Linked DNA regions of Homo sapiens: region 1 is linked to region 2. The links come from fine-mapping of genetic effects on gene expression. A gene starts in region 2. The other region holds a variant in brackets. All regions are shown on one strand. Distances are between the middles of the regions.

Region 1 (5,372 bases), 42 kb after region 2:
CTCTACCTGCCTCCTGCTTCTATAACATTTATTATAGGGTATAGCTATAAGAGTTGCTTGTGTTGTTATTTCATTTCTCTGTCAAGTGCCTGACACCTAGTAGGTGTTTAATAAATGGTCGTTGACTGACTGATAGAGGGCAGGGTGTGATCCTTATTTCTCCTCTTCTCCCCAGCAGACATAATTGCTGGGTGGAGGCAAAAGGAAATGGAGCTCACAGTGTGCCCCACCTGTTCCAGCCTCAACACTGCACTGAGTGGCTGATGCATTGCTATTCCCATGTTCCAGATGGGAAAGCAGAGTCAGCGAGGCAACCTGAGACAGTTCAGGTCACCCTGCTCATCAGAGGCAGGGCCAGGATTCAAGCCTGGGTCTGCCTGAGGCCAAGTGTCAAGTCCTTTCTCTGGCTCTGGATTGGCTCCCACCCAGTGAGGTTCTTGGTGCAGGTGATATGGACAGGAGGCAGGGAAATACTGGGTAGAGGAGGACAGCTCTCTGGCAAAAGCCCCACCCACAAGCCTGGGCCCACGGCCCTAAATGAGAACTTCACATTCCTGTTTTCCCACCTGAGTGTTGCTTTTGCCAAAACCACCCTGGCCCACCATGCCCCCCATCCTATACCCATAAAAACCCCAAACTCCACTGGCAGAGGAGCAGAGCAGCATGGCAGAGAAGGAGAGAAGAGAAGAAGTGTCTGAATGTGGAAGAGGCAGCTGGACAGTTGGAGAAGAGTTCAGCCATCTGGAAGAGTACCTTCCCACTCCATCCCCTTTCCAGCTCCCCACCCGACTAAGAGCCACCTCCATCACTCAATAAAACCTCTGCATTCACCATCCTTCAAGTCCGTGTGACCTGATTCTTCCTGGATGCCAGACAAGGACCCAGGTACCAAGAGGGCAGGGTGTAAAAGGCTGTCACCCTCACTCTCCACTGAGTTGGTTAACACTTAGCCATCAGTGAATGGCAACTTCTAAAAGAGCATTAATTGTAACACAACCCTAGACGGTACTGTAGGGCCAGAGCCCAAAAGCGCTTGCCCCGGCCCCAGCACCCACTTGCTTGCATGCTTCCCCTCACACAAGGGATTTGAGCAAGTGAGCCACACCCCTGTCACCGCAAGTCCCAAGAAGGGGTCCAGGGAACTCTCCCTTCTCCCAGGGCAGGCCCCAAGGAATAGTGAGGGATTGAGCAGGTTCACAGGACTGGCTGTCTTGGAGGGGATGCTGTGGCTTATAGCCCTCCAGGGAACAAGCCCTGTGCAGGGGGCAGCTTGGACCTGGGCTCAGCTGGCCACAGGAGTCGGGGGCTGCTGGAAAGTCAGCAGCATAGGTCAGCAAAATTGGCAGCCACCCCGTGTCTCTTCTCTCCCCCAGGGCTCTGATGGGTGTTCCGTCCCTGAGACAATTTGATGACGCAGTTTCCCATCTCCAGAAATCTGTCTCGCAATCTTGCTAGTCACCTTTGATTTGGGGCTTGAGCCGAGTGTGGCCAGCAGGCTACAGAGGAGTAGCCACAGTGTGCACGCATGTGTGTGCATTTGTGTGTGTGTGTGCATGTGTGTGTTTGTGTGCACACGTGTGTTTGTGCACATGTGTGTTTGTGTTGGTGTGTGTATATATGTGTGTGTGTTTGTGTGTGCATGCATGTGTTTGTGTGTGCATGCATGTGTTTGTGCACACATGTGTGTGTTTGTGTGTGCACGTGTGTGTACACGTGTGCGTGCATACATGAATGTTGGAAGAGCATGGGTCAAGTGCCTGGAGATGTCCCCAGGGGGTTGGAACTACACAAGTCTTGTGGTTTCATGACTGAGGCCCACTCCCTATCAGAAGCCCAGCTCCCACTCTTTACCTTGGACAAGTGGCTTAACTCCTCAGGGCCTCAGTTTCTTCATGTGTCAAATGGGGATAATAATAGCACCTACTTTGTGGGGTTAATGTGAGCACAAAGTACATTAATGATTGCAAAGCCCTTAAACAATACTTCACATGCTTCAAACACTCCAGAAATGCCAGTGTTTCCTTTCCCTTTGTGTGACATCCGGTTTCCATCACAATTTTATTGGAGGAAAGACTCCTGGTAGTTAAGAAGAAAATGCCCAACCTCCCCCAGCCTGTCTTTTGCAGAAGGGAAAACTGAGGCCTCGAGAGGTGAAACGATGTCTACAGCCACACGGCAAGGCAATGCCAGCCTGGAGCAAGAGCCCGGGCTTTGCCTGTCTCTTGCTGGAGTGGCTTTTAGGGGTTTGACCCAGGTTAGAGGGACTCAGGTTCTGGGGCCAGGGCTGTAGCCCTCTCGGACACTGCCCGAGGGGCTTTCTGACTTGAGCATAGGGTTATTAGACTGGACATATTCCTCCCTCCATCTTTCTTCCGCCGTTGGAATTCTTGCCAAATTAACCTTACAGAATCCTGGAGTATTAGTGTGGGAAGGGCTCTTGGAAATTATTTCATCAGAATCCCTCATGCTACAGAGATGGGCATGGAGGCCCAGAGACAGAGGGTGGGCATTCTACCAGGACACACAGCCAGTTTGGCTGAACCTAGTTCCTAGGATCTTGGTATTCAGCCACTTTGTAATTTTTTTTTTTTTTGAGACCAAGTCTCACTTTTGTTGCCCAGGCTGGAGTGCAATGGCACGATCTCGGCTCACTGCAACCTCTGCCTCCCAGGTTCAAGCAATTCTCCTGCCTCAGCCTCCCAGGTAGCTGGGATTACAGGCATGCACCACTACGCCCAGCTAATTTTGTATTTTTAGTAGAGACGGGGGTTTCTCCATGTTGGTCAGGCTGGTCTCGAACTCC[C/T]GACCTCAGGTAATCCGCCCGCCTCAGCCTCCCAAAGTGCTGGGATTACAGGCTTGAGTCACCGCACCTGGCCTGCCACTTTGCTTTTTAAAATCGTCCTACAGTGCTCCATTGCAGGTGGAAGACACAGCAGTGTGCTAACATTGTCTGATTGTCAAAACCAAGACCTCATACCCCAGGCCGAGGCAGAGGGGTAGTGGGGGTGGAGAGTGGGGAGCTTACATCAAACCTTAAGAGCAATGGCCTTTGCATGGTGGTCATGATGTCCTCATTCCACTTTCCTGCATGCCATTCATGTATACCAGGAAAAAATAGAAACCCTCACCAGAGAGCAAAACCAAAAACCACATAGAAAGGAAGGCTGCAGGTCTGGAAGAGGGTGTGTTTCCCAGAAAAGCAATTCCTAAGGAACAGCTCAGGCTGGGAAGTGAGCCGTAGCTGGGTGTGTCCAGGAAGGCTGTTTCTCCCGCAGCCTCTCCAGCCCCCTGGTGGTCTCCGGTGTCCTGGGGATGGCACAGGCCCTGCTAGGGTGGGAGTGGAGGGTGGTGGGCGGGGTCTCTGCCTAACCAGTTACTGGCCCTGCTCCTCCACCACGTGCAAACCTGGGCTGTGACCTTCTTCCCACCCAGCTGGGTATACAAAACAAGGAGGAGGAGACACAGTAAACAGAGAACCCTAACTGGTAGGTCACAGAGAAAAAGGAATCCTGAACTGGTTTGGGCCCTGCCCAGCAAGCAGGCCAGAGGAGCCGGGGAGAGCACTGAGCTGGGACAGGTGGAGTTTTATCCCTATCTGCACAGGGTAGTATCTGGGGTCTAAGGGCTTCCCACAACATATCCTAGGTGCTGAAGGGACCTATACTATTGCCCTTTCAGCTCCTGGGAGTCGCTTTCCTGCCCCTTTCATCCGTTCCTTCCTTCATTTTACTCTGCTTAGTGTGACATGGCAGCACAGGCACACACATGGTGGGCAGGGCCAAAAAAAAAATTAGGATATCAAGCGACATCTTAGTGCCACCCTACAAGGGCCACCTCCAATCTCACCTCCTCTAAGAAGCCTTCCCTGATTTCTCAGCCAGCCAAGATCCCTAGTCTGAGACTCTATAGCAAAGAGGTGGAAGGAATATTGTCTAAGGGTCGTAGGCCCAGGACCAGGTGTGCCCTTGGGTAAATGCCTCGGCATCTCTGAGCTTTAATTTCCTCATTGGGAGAATGAGGGGATGTAACAGATGATTCTGGAGACCTTTGTACAACCGTAATGTCTTTAAAGAGGGGGATGCAGTGAACTCCCCATCCTGAGAGGCATGCAAGCAGAGGCAATGGGATCAGCACACTGAGTCTGCAGAGGTTCAGCTCCTCACCCATTGGCATCCAACGGCTCTTCTGGAGATGGGAGGAACAAATCTGTCTTAGCAAGTTCCCCTTCACTGGGTGTGGCACAAAGGAGGCTGCTCCCTGCCTTGCTCCCTGTGGCTTCTGAAGATCCTGGGTCCTGGCCCTGACCTGTCAGTCCTGCTCACAGTCTCGCCCATCTCAAAGCCTCACCCTAGCCATGTGACCTTTGTCTTCTATCCAATTCCGCTCAGGAGGTGGAGCCCCTTGGAATTGAGGGAGTCAACCTTCAGAATTCCAGAGTTCCTGGTTCTGCCAATGTTACGCCTTTTCTAGAAAGGAGCAGGAGAGAAGCATGTTCCTTAGAGCTGATCTGCAGGGAAACGGGCCCAGAATCTCTCAGGACTGGAGAAGCAGAGAAGACAGGAAATGTTGAGCCCTGAGCCCGAGGCAAGAACATTCAGGTCATGCCTGAACTCAGAAGTCAGATGAACTCGGGACATGTCTTGGCTTTGCCTCCACTGACTGGAAGACCTAGGGCAGGTGACTTAACCTCTTGGTAAATAAGGATAACCTCCCTGGAACAAGGCACTGGGAGCACCGTGACAATGTGCAAAGTGCCTGCAACATATCTTCATTTCATTTATATTGTTTCCATATTTTTAAGCACATTACAGAGAAACCCCTGCAATGTAGGGACTAATATTATCATCCCCATTTTGCAGACGAGCAAACAGAGGCACAGCTAGCAAGACTAGAGTTGAGATTTGAACATAAGCAGTCTGGGCCAGAACCTCAGGTGGAGATGATGGTTCTTTTTTTTGCTTTTTAACTTTTTATTATGGAAAATTTGGAATATACCCACAAGTAGATAGACTAGCATAATGAAACTCCACATACTTCACCCAGCTTCAGTAATTACCAACTCGCAGCCAATCTTTTTCTCTATGCCCAAACCTACCTTACCCCTCCTGTAATATTTGCAGTAAATCCTGCATGTCTGTCATTTCATCTGTAAATATTTCACTATTCTTCTCTAAAAGCTAAGGACTCTTATTTCAGAAAGCATAACTAGACAACCATTATCACATCTCGAAGAAACTGACAATAATTCCTAAATGGCATCAACTATCCAGGAAGTATTACAACTTTCAATCATATGAATTTCACGCTACTTTCTTCACAGCTGGTTTTCTTGAATCAGAATGCAAATGACTTTACACATTGGGTTGTTTGAT
Region 2 (5,372 bases):
CTTTGAATGCAGCTGAGAGCTGGCAGCTATTTTGGCAGCTACAGTACACTGAGCCCCTTGTTGACTGAAGCCCTGAAATGTCTTCCTCTCGTACTTGCTGGGTCCCAACCAATCCTTCCTGATAGTTTTCTGTCCCCTGAAGCTCCTGAAAAGTAGGCTTGGCTTCCTGTTTACTGCCTTAAACACAATCCTGGCCATAGGGAGTCTCTGCAATCATCATGGCCACTCAAATGAGAACCCTGGCACTCAGGCCTCTTCTCTGACCTCAGCCTGAGACTGAGACCTGTCACCAGGGCCCAGCGGGCATCTTGGGTCTGAACAGAGCCCTTCAGCAGGAGCCCTGCTTACTCGGTGACCTTGGACAAGTCTGCTTGTCTCTGGACCTTGGTTTCTTCATCTGTAAGGCAGAGTGGTTGAACTTAATGATGCATTCTTTTTAAGGTTTTTAGTAGATTTGCATACAGTGATAAGAAAGATGCCTTGTACTCATTCTTTTTTTTTTTTTTTTTCTGAGACAGGGTCTCACTTTATTGCCCAGGCTGGAGTGCAATGGCACAATCATGGCTCACTGCAGCCTTGAACCCTGGGCTCTACTGATTTTCCCACCACATTCTCCCAAGTACCTGATACTACAGGTGTGCACCCCCATGCCTGGCTAATTTTTGTATTTTTACTAGAGACAGGGTTTCACCATGTTGCCTGGGCTGGTCTTTGAACTCCTGGGCTCATGTGATCTGCCTGTCTCGGCCTCCCAAAGTGCTGGGATTATAGGCATGAGCACTGTGCCCGGCCCCATTATTCTTTACTCAGTTTCCCCCAATAGTAACATCTTACACAAGGATCGTGCCATATCACAACCAGGAGAGTGACACGGACACCATTTTTGGGATTTTATTCAGACTGTGCTTTGACATGCATTCATTTCAGTCATAGTTAAAGCCTCTTCTGCTCATAGGAGAAAATGGTTGTTGGTGCTTGCTGGGGTGGCGCTGTCCTGGTGTCTCACATACATCTCTGACCTTCCTCTTGTCCTTTCTCGCCTTTCCTTCCCTTTCTTTGCCCATTACCTCTTTCCAAAAAGGGAATAAGGCCGTCCTTTTGGGTCACTTAATTTTCACAACGACACAGTGAGGCACTGCTCTCCTCATTCCCATTTTACAGATGGGATGCCGAGTTTCGGTGGTCGGCCAGGCCCATGCGGTGGTGGAGTGAGGACTGGAACAGTGGCATGTGTGACTCAGAGACCTGGACCTCTGACCGGCTGCACTGTGCACTCTGCAGCCCCGCGGTGAGGCCCTTCTTGGGCAGGGGCCTGAGCTGGGGGTGGTCCGGGGAGGCAAGAGGATGCTGAGAAGGAATCAAGGGGGTCTGGAGAAAGGGGCTGGGCACAGGGAAAGAGAAGGGCAGGAAGGAGCTGAAGGTGCACAGAGGCCAGAGCGGAGCTCAGCCGGAGCCAAGGCTTGGATCAGCCCTGGTTGGATGCCCAGGCTCCTCGGAGCTGTGGTGGGAGCAGGGGTGGGGAGGAACACTTTCCAGGGCTGCTTCCGACCTGCTCCTCATCAAATTTGTGACTCATCTCCGGAGAGCAAGAGCCTGCCTGTGGCCATTGCAACATCAGGGAGTTTCCCCGAGGCTGGGATTTGGAGGGCCTTAGTGCCACCCACTCCCCATGATGGATTGGGGTGATGATGGGGCAGGGTGGGGGCAGTTTTCTTACCTTCCCACTGCAGAGAGCAGTGAAGGCCACATATGGCCCCTGATCACGCGGTTCTGGAGCCCAGGACAGACCCAGAGCTGGGAACGGATTGGAGTGAAACCTTGTTCTCTCTTTCTACTTGGCCCTTCTCAGGGAGAGAGTGGAAGCCCACATGGGTGCTGGAGCTGGGGATGCTGGAAGACTATTTGCTAATTCCTCCCTCCACCCCAGGTGTTAGCACCACAGGTGTGGCCTGGGCCTGGCCCCATATGGAACACGCCAGGTGAACCTATCAACCAGATCCATGGGAACTCAGATATATTACCTTTTCCCACAGCATCGATCCTTTTAGTCAAGGCAGAAATTTCTCCCTCTGTAAATGAATAACTGGCCTTCCCCACAGAAGGGCAACAGAATTCTACTGTACGGGTTTGCCAGTTTCTCTCCCACTGTGGGGCCATTTGCTGGGCTTCGGTAAACGTTACTTATGTGCGTCTCATAAATCAGGTGTCTGAGTTCTCAGGCTGTGGCTGCAGTCTACCATTGAATTACATCCCGTGAGCAATGTTGTCCGATTTCACCGGCCAGCACGTTCTTCTCGAGTGTGGGATTGGTTTTTGCAAGACCTCGAAAGGATTTTGATAAGCCACCTGCTTAAGGCCGGCTGAAAAAGAAGAAAGGAGGGCATATGTGGGTCAGCTCACTCGGAATAGAAGAGGAATCAGGTATTATTTTCCCTTTCCCACTCTCTATTCCTGCCTGTTCCTGCCTACTTTTGCCACTTTGCCACAGAGCCTTTGCCCAATGAATTCCTGCCTGGGGGCTTGGAAATCACATTGGTGTTGGAGTCAGATGAGTTGGGTGAATCCAGCCTCTGCAGTCTGAGCAGGCACTGCCTTCCTTAGCCTCCTCTTCCTCACCTAGAAAGTGGACATCCTGAAACAGACCTCACAAGGGAGTCAGGCGATTAAATGAGATGACTGAGCCTACTCCTGTGTGTGGCTGCTGAGTCGCACTGGGTGTGCTTGGGCAGGTCTTACTGCTCTCTGTTTCCTAGACTGTATGTGAAGGGATGGTCTGGATGAGGGGTTGCAAACTTAACCTCCCATAGCTTCCATGCGTGTGAACCTGATGGGAGGGCGCCCTGTTCACGGGGCCTCTGCTACACAGCACCAAAGAATTGGAGCCCCGGGGGGACCCTGGAAGGTCAACTCCAAGGGCCCAGGGATGTTCCTCTCTTTTGTTCACTGCCATATTTTCAGTGCCCAAAACAGTGTCTGACAAAGTAGATGCTTAATAAATATCTGCTGAATGAATGAAATTGAATCAGTGTTGCTGGATGTTCCAAACTTTCAAAAGAAACTGGAAAGCTGGCTCCCAATGGGGAGTTTCAGTACTGGTAACCAACTCAAGAGCCTGGGGGCTTGGAGTTTTAAAAAATACCATGTGGTTCAAATTAAACACATGTGCAGGCTGGATCTTGCCTGTTGGCTCAGCTCCAGGCCTTCTGACGACACTCTGCTCTCCAGGAAACCTGCAGGGGCTGGAACACTGATCACAGGGTTATCACTGATGAGGTCCTGGTGGCCCAGCCGCTGCCAGCCTCTCAAACCCTGTCTCCAGGCTCCAAGAACATGGCATTCTTTCCATTCCTGGAATGAATGAGTCTTTGCTGCTATTCTGTGAGGACCAGCCCTTCCCGTGCAGCTGTGGGGACTGCCATTCTCCCCATTCCCCCAAGTGTCTTGGAGTCCAGTCACTACACCCTCTCCCCCACTCCATGGAAACTGACCTTGGAATGGCCTCCTGGCCCACGGACTCTCTCCTCCCCAGGGCCTGACAATGTCCCGCCTGCCTGTGAGGGCCCAGGTAGGGCCCACCCACCACCTGACCTCTCCATTCTCTATGTTGTCTCCAACCTCCTTCTTCTTCCCTCTACTTCAGCCACCTGGTGCCAGGGATACACTTGGTCCTTGTCATCTCCTGAGATGGCTCTGCCTCTGGAATGTTCTACTCAAACATTCCTGCTCTGTGGCTATGCCTTCCTCTCTCTCTTTTAATGAGACAGGGTCTCACTCTGTCAGCCAGGCTGGAATGCAGTGGCACAATCTTGGCTCACTGCTTGTAGCCCTGACCTCCTGGGCTCAGATGATCCTCTTGCCTCAGCCTCCCAAGTAGCTGGGACTACAGGTGCGCACTACCACGCCTGGATAATTTTTGTATTTTTTGTAGAGACGGGGTCTTGCTATGTTGCCCAGGCTGGTCTCAAACTCCCGGGCTCAAGCCATCCACCTGTCTCAGCCTCCCAAAGTGCTGGGATTACAGATTGCACCCTTTGTGGAAACCAGGCTCACGGCTGATTCCCTTCACAGTGTACAGAAGATCACGCCTGGCTCTTCTTCTGTTTCTTGCTGTCACCCAGGTTCTCTCACTATATCCATCCTTTAACACACTGATCTCACTTCACTTCCTTCTCTCCCTGTGCTCGTTTCTTCCCTCTCCATCATTCCCCCGAGTCTGACCAGGATCCCCAACTCCCATGACGTATGGCCGTCTATCTGGCTAAACCCTACTCCAGAGCAATCCTTTCCTGGGTCTGTCGAGCATTATCAGAGTAAATTCACACAACACAGCCACGCTTTCCAGCTTCAATGGGGCCCTCAAAGCTGCCTGGAGCCCACCATCCTTCCTGGGTGAACTGTCTTTGCCAGCTGACCATGGTGGACCCAGCCTGTCCATTCTCCTCCAGCCCCAATTCTCTCCATGACCCGCCTCCTCCTCTGCCATCCTTCAACCTCTCCCTCCTAACCTGTAACCCCACCTGCCTCTGGGCCTACTTTGTTCCTTCTGTCTGGAACACTCCTTTCCCCCATTTTGCTTGGCCAGCTTCTCATTTTTTGGGATTCAGTTTATGTGTCTCTTCCTCCAGGAACCCCTCTCTAACCATCCCTCCCAGCCACCCAGACTGGAGCCCTGCTCTGGTTCTCACGGCACCCCTCACCCTGATGGTGGCGGGCATCCTGCTCTATGACAATCCCTTAATTATTGTCCTGGTTGCTGTGAGCCCCTGGAGGGTAGAGACACCGTTAGGCTCACCGTTGGGTCTCTCATAGCAAGACCCGCACCAATGCATTACACGTTCAATAAGAGCATGCACAAGCATTCTTTTGTGAGCAGCTCACCCTTTCCCGCCTCTGCCAGCCCTTCCTCCCTGTCTCCACGTATCCAGATTGCACCCTTTGTGGAAACCAGGCTCACGGCTGACTCCCTTCACAGCGTCTTCTCTGCTAACCTGAGAGGGAACCCATCCCCTTTCTCGCTGAAGGCGCAAGATGCTGGATCCGTGGTGTGTTCATGCAATTTCTCATTTCATTTTTTATATTATAATATTTAGATGTATGTAAGTTCCTTGAATATAGAACTTCTAGCTATACCATCCCTGTATTCCTGGCAGTTAGCCTAGAAAGCTTTGAATAGACAAATGGAAGTGTAATAAGAGAGGCCATTACCCGATACTTGTTATTTGTTTCCTGCTGCTGCTATGACAAATTACCAGAAACTCGGTGGCTTAAAATACAAATGGGGCCAGGCGCAGTGGCCACGCCTATAATCCTAGCACTATGGGAGACCAAAGTGGAGGATCACTTGAGCCCTTGAGTTTGAGACCAGCCTAGGC

Alleles and levels. Positions count from the first base shown, and alleles are read on the strand shown. Sizes are in standard deviations (SD) of each study's normalised expression.
In carriers of allele T in region 1, the expression in transverse colon of the gene that starts at base 2,210 in region 2 tends to be higher than with C alone (small effect, 0.35 SD a copy in GTEx).

What was found.
Region 1: its variant is fine-mapped to the expression of BDKRB1-AS1 in transverse colon (GTEx, PIP 0.97).

What each region holds. Positions count from the first base shown.
Region 1 is chr14:96,223,876-96,229,247 of GRCh38, reverse strand. All of the region lies in intron 1 of BDKRB2 (bradykinin receptor B2), which reads right to left. Among named protein-coding and RNA genes, the nearest start is that of BDKRB2, 22 kb to the right of the region's middle. The variant C/T (reference allele first, on the strand shown) is at 2,804.
Region 2 is chr14:96,265,418-96,270,789 of GRCh38, reverse strand. BDKRB1-AS1 (BDKRB1 antisense RNA 1) reads left to right here and starts at 2,210. Exons shown (of 2, transcript XR_007064322.1): 1 at 2,210-2,421. RefSeq lists an enhancer at 936-2,135.